Regions from separate parts of the Homo sapiens genome. Here region 2 is linked to region 1. The links come from fine-mapping of genetic effects on gene expression. A gene starts in region 1. The other region holds a variant in brackets. All regions are shown on one strand. Distances are between the middles of the regions. Region 1 holds the start of SMPD3 (sphingomyelin phosphodiesterase 3). Region 2 overlaps SMPD3 (sphingomyelin phosphodiesterase 3).

The links.
Region 2: its variant is fine-mapped to the expression of SMPD3 in whole blood (INTERVAL, PIP above 0.99).

The regions. Positions count from the first base shown.
Region 1 is chr16:68,447,093-68,449,991 of GRCh38, forward strand. It overlaps SMPD3 (sphingomyelin phosphodiesterase 3), which reads right to left and starts at 1,416. Exons shown (of 9, transcript NM_018667.4): 1 at 1,261-1,416. It overlaps LOC124903705 (a long non-coding RNA gene), which reads left to right and starts at 1,748. Exons shown (of 2, transcript XR_007065097.1): 1 at 1,748-1,974; 2 at 2,073-2,899. RefSeq lists a silencer at 1,114-1,633 and an enhancer at 1,734-1,783.
Region 2 is chr16:68,365,857-68,368,755 of GRCh38, forward strand. All of the region lies in intron 3 of SMPD3 (sphingomyelin phosphodiesterase 3), which reads right to left. Among named protein-coding and RNA genes, the nearest start is that of PRMT7, 56 kb to the left of the region's middle. RefSeq lists enhancers at 1,133-1,686, 1,687-2,239, 2,666-2,865. The variant CGTGCGCTGCT/C (reference allele first, on the strand shown) is at 1,579.

The sequences.
Region 1 (2,899 bases):
CGGCCGCGCCCCCCGCCCAGCCCGCGGCGCAGGCCTGCCAGTGCGGCGACCGCCGCTTTGTCCTCTCGAGGATGCCTGGGCCGAGCGCGAAAGCCCCATGCCTTGGAACAGCCACCGCGCGTCCTGGAAGCAGGTCCCCGAGCCTCGGTTTGGGGTGCGCCCTGCATCGGAGCGGAGCAGCCCCCAAAGATTCGCGGGCACGAGGTTGGGGGTAGCGTCTACCTGGAGCTCTTGAGTGCTTGAGGGGAGACCCGCCCCGTCCCGCTCTGTACATGCCCATCTGGGATTGGCCCCCAGCTGCGGTGCCAGAGGCTCGGTCCCCGGGGCGTGGTGGGCTAGGGCGGGTCGTCTCGACTTAGAGCCCCAGGCCTGGATCCAGGTAGGGAGGGCCTGGGAGATAAGGCCCAGGTGGGGAGAGGTGGGGAGGGGTCCCTCCTGTCCTCGTACATCCCCCTACACTACCTCTCACACCCAGGCCACCCAACCCTCGGCGCGGGCCCGAGCGCGGGGGATTCCGAGTGTCAGTGCTTTCCTCCACCCGCGACTCCGAGAAGGATGGGGAGGGGTCTCCCAGCGTTTCCCTGCCACATTCCAATTCCACCCTTCACCAGTAACCTAGGAGGGTCCAAGTGGGAGGGGTAAGAGTCCTCTGTCTCTTCCACATCCTCGATCCTCCTCTTTACAAAACCCTAGGGCCAAGGGAGGAGGGGGGAATAGGGAGGGGGGCGAGTGTGGAGGAAGGGGCCTGGGCAAGGGTCTTCCCTGCATCCCAAGCAGCCCTTCCTGAATACCCCTGGGAGGGTCTGGGCTAGGGGAGCGGTCCGCGATCTCATCCATCACCACCAGACTCCTTTGTAACCTCGAGCAGCCGAAGTGTTGCGGGGAGGGGTCCCCCTGCCTCGAGTCCCTTCATCCCACAACACCTCATCCTCCCGTCCTGAGTAATCCGAGCAGCCCCGTCGCCAGGCACAGCGGGAGGGAGGGTCCAAGCCTCCTCGCTCTCCCAGGAGAGATGGGGGGTGGGGGTGACCCCCAGCCCTCGCCCCTCATACCCAAGAGCCTTCTCCATGATAAAACGAAAACTAACCCAAGCTGCTCCGACCTCCGGCGCCCGGCCACGGGAGGCCCCTAGTCAGTCGGCGGCTGTCCGGGACCCGCGGTCCTGAGAGCAACGAGAACACGTCCCGTCAACTCCCCAGCCCCTCACGCCTCGGTTCGCCCGCTCCCCAAGAAAACAAAAGCGAATTCAGCAGCACTGACCTCTGACGGCGGGCGGGAGGGCGGTCAGCGCCCGGCAGCGCACCCCGCTCCTCCCGGCTCCTCACAGCCCGGGCTCCCGGCCGCAGATCTGGCGGCGGCCGCAGCGGCGGCGGCTCTCGCGGCTCTCGGGTCCGGAGCCTCCCTCAGACTCAGCACCTGGAGCGGCGAACAGCTCCGCGCTTCATTCCTCTGACCCCGCCTCCCTCGCGCCGCCGGAGCCAATGGTGACCCGGACCCCGCCCAGGAGTCTGCCCATTGGGGGCGTCCTCCCCTCTCCCTCCGGCCCCGCCCGCAGGTTCCTGGGTCTCTCCTTCAAGACCACATCCCCCAGAGACCGGCGGAGTTTCGCACAGCCTTCTGGGACTTATAGTTCTTTAAGGACGCGGAGTGGGCTCACGCCGCGGGTAGGCAAACAGAGCGGGACTGCATTTCCCAGAGTGCACTGAAGACACGGAGGCGCGGAGCAGGGCGGGAGGACCGTTTCCATAGCAAAGACGACCAGCCGAGGATGGCTGGCGGAGGCGTGGGGCAGGCCGCAGGACCCTCGAAGGATCGTGTGAGACCCCGGGCAGCCTCTTGGGAGGCCATTTCGAGGAGAAAACCTTGATTTCTGCCTCAGGACCCTGGGCCTCAGTTTTCCTATCTGAGAAGAAGGGCGAAGAGCTGTGCCCCCGACCACACCCGTCGGTGATGGGGCAAACCGAGGGCAAGCAGGTTTGGTTCCTGCCCAGCAAAGGTGAGGGAGGACGGAGGAGACTCTCCCACCGCATTCAGAACTTTATTCCTTTATTTTTGTCTCAATCTTGTCATAGAGGAGCGCTTCACTTTTGGTCATCCCTTGGGCCACCAGGGCCTTCCCGTCTCCGTCTTCCCATCGCAGGTCCTGGCCTCCTTCACACCACTCCAGGATACCGCAGCATCTCCCCCAGCGCAGCAGACGGAGGGCGCTTCACATGCCCCCGGACCTAAGCCCACTCTCCCCTTCAAGATCTGGACTCCACTTTTTTGCAACACTCTTAACTTCTTTGGAAGCTGGGAAGCCTCCTACTCCCTTGGGCCTCTCCACCCTGCCCTCAGCTAACTCGTCGGCAAGCCCCAGCCTAGACATTGCCTGTTTTGTGAAGACATCTAGATGCTGGGCTGTCTGTTGAGTGCCCCACCCTGTGTTTGAGCAGCACCCTCTACTTCCCCTGTTCTACTTGCATGTTTATGTGCTCGTCTTCCTCATTATAAGATCCACAGGGGAGGGGCCATGTCTATATTATTCATACTTACAGTCCAGTGTCTAGTATCTGGCACGTAGTAGGCACTCACTAGCTATTGAGATATAAATATAGATATTTGTTGAATTGAAAATGAATTGGGCCGGGCGTGGTGGCTCACGCCTGTAATCCCAGAACTTTGGGAGGCCGAGGCAGGTGGATCACTAGGTCAGGAGTTCGAGACAAGTCTGACCAAAATGGTGAAACCCAGTCTCTACTAAAAATACAAAAATTAGCTGGGCGTGGTGGCACGTGCCTGTAATCCCAGCTATTCAGGAGGCTGAGGCGGGAGAATCGCTTGAACCCCGGGAGGTGGAGGTTGCAGTGAGTCGAGATTGCACCACTACACTCCAGCCTGGACAACAGAGTGAGACCCT
Region 2 (2,899 bases), 81 kb before region 1:
TCCACTGTACCCTGCAGGCAATTCATAACTGCCCTACCCCAGGTGGGGGCAAGATGGAGCCCTTGTCAGTGCTCAGCCCAGGAGAGGTGAGGGATGGCCACAGAGATGCCCTGCACAGAGAGGCCGCTTACCAGCTCCTCATCCCCTGCCCCTGGGATTCCTTCCCTCCTGTGCCTCTGTACCCTCCCCAAGCCATGCAAATCCATTCCAGACTGAGTTTCCCAAGATGAGGAGACCCCAGACCCAAAAAGCACTCCAGGGAGGTGGCTGGGCAGGACACACTGCCTCTCCCAGTTGTTGGCTGAGGGCAGAGGGCCGCAGGGTGGGTGCCCCACATCTGTGGAGCTCACAGCAGCCCAAACGTCACAGCCCATCTGCTCCAACAGCCTCGGCAGGCTCCGTCCTTCCTTCACTGCTGCAGTCGGTCAGGCTGGTATTATCTCCTCCATCTGGACGTCCTCAGCAGCAGGTGCCCCTGGCTTTCTACAGCTCTTCATCCCCTTCCCAGCCCTAATGCACAGCCTTCCTTCCCCAGCACCTGGGGGTACGAACGTCTGGCTGTTCAGCCCCACAGGTTCACCATTCACTTCTTGCCCACAGACAGACCCAAACCTTAGCCTAACAGCATCCCCGCCCCCCGAATGGCTCTGTGAGATCACGCAGCATTGATGGTTCTGCTGCAAAAACAAAACACTGATGAAGCCGCCATGCTCAAAAGGCCACATGAGGCTGAGCACGGTGGCTCACGCCTGTAATCCCAGTACTTTGGGAGGCCGAGGCAAGTGGATCACCTGAGTTCAGGAGTTCGAGACCAGCCTGGCCAACATGATGAAACCCCATCTCGACTAAGAATACAAAAATTAGCCGGGTGTGCTGGGCACAGTGGCTCACACCTGTAATCCCAGCATTTTGGGAGGTTGAGGCAGGCAGATCACAAGGTCAGGAGTTTGAGACCAGCCTGACCAACATGGTGAAACGCTGTCTCTACTAAAAATACAAAAATTAGCCGGGCGTGGTGGTATGTGCCTGTAATCCCAGCTATTCAGGAGGGTGAGGCAGGAGAATCGCTTGAACCTTGGAGGCGGAGGTCACAGTGAGCCAAGATCATGCCACTGCACTCCAGCCTAGGCAACAGAGTGAGACTCTGTCTCAAAAAAAAAAAAAAAAATTAGCTGGGTGTGCATGCCTGTAACCCCAGCTATTCAGGAGGCTGAGGCAGGAGAATCCCTTGGACCTGGGGGGCGGAGGTTGCAGTGAGCCAAGATCGCCCCATTGCACCACTCTGGCCTGGGCGACAGAATGAGACTGTCTCAAAATAAATAAAAGACCACACGGGGGCGCCGTCTTCAGGCAACAACTGCTCCTCCTCCATGAGGATCATCTCAGGCCCAGTGGGCTCGTGCTGGGGTGGGGTGGCGACGCATGGACATTACTTTTCTGGGTCCTTACAACGGCTCAGGCACATGATAAAGTGATGCTGCTTTTACCGTTGAACACACTGAGGCCAGAAGTTGAGTTGTGGGCCGGGGTCACAGGCTCACATGGTCTAAGAGGCAGCTTCCAGTCGGATCTGTTTGT[CGTGCGCTGCT/C]GTGCGCTGCTCTGCGCTGCTTTCTGAGGGGCTGGTGTCTTTGCGGTTTCTCCCCGGCCGCCTGTTTGTTGGTCTTAAGGCGTCAGCCTCTCACTCATCCAACACTTGGTGTCACCTGCCCCGCGCTGTGTCCCGGACAGGGTTGGACACTCGCAGGGAGGCCTCAGACTGGGCCCTGCACGACAAGAACCCACTGGCCGGAGGAGTGACGAGGTCCTGCTCCCTCCCGCCCCGCTTCTCCCTCCTCATCTGCCGTGTGATCTCACCAAGATCCACTTGATTATTTGCTGGGCCTCATTGATTCCTGGCTCGTGGCCTTGGGAGCCGCAGAGCCTTGTGTTTCTCTTGCAAAAACAAGCAATCACACGAAAGGCTGTGCCTTTGAGTCCTGGCGGGCAAAGACTGTCAACGGAAGAGGTGTCCAGAATAAGGCTCTATTGTAGGTGAGGAAAAAGGGATTCCAGTCCCTTCCTTCACAGAGCCACATTTCCCTGAAGGCTCTGAAGTCCCATACGGGAAACCATGAGGGCCTTCCGGGAAGGAGGGGACCGCTGATTTCTGCAGCGAGTCCCTCCAGCGTCCCGGCCCCTCTCCGGCTGGGCCTGTCCCCAAGGCAGCCCCACGTACTTCACTTCTCCGCGCTGGGATCCGCGTGTGCTGGGCACACCACAGCTCTGCTGTCCTGGTGCTCTGTCTGATGGACAGACAAGACCCTGGGCACGAGGGCAGAGGAGCCCATGAAGGGAAGAGAGGATTGTGTGGCTGGCCGCTGAGGGAGCTCCATGAGGTGGTGTGGCCACACCCAGTGTGGGACCAAGACAAGCAGGGGCCAGGGGTACAGGAGCCCCTCATCGGGGTTGTGGCTGGGGCAGAGCTGGAGCTAAGGGTGGCGGGGGCAGGGGGGCGGGAGGTGGTACAAGGTGACGTTCAGACTTCCTGAGGCAGTGGAGGGCATAAGAGGAGTCACACCTGGCCTCAGACGAGGAGGGTGGCTGAAACCACAGCAGGGCTGATGCAGAGGAGGGGGCCTGGGCCAAGGGAGCTGGAGATGTGGGGTGCACCCAGGGCCATCTGGAAAGTGAGCTAGGGGCCTGGAATGGATGGGTCGGGCACAGGACAGAGCAGCCAAGGTGGTCCTTCTGGCTTCAGGATGGCAGAACACAGAAGAGGAGCAGCCCGGGGCAGAGGCTGAGTCTGGTTTGCGAGTGAATGGGGATGTGTCCTGGAGGCAGCCAGATGTAGGGCTGGGGGGAGAGGTCTGGGCCAGGACAAAGCAGAGGGGCCTCAGAAAGGGCAGAAATGGAAGCTGCA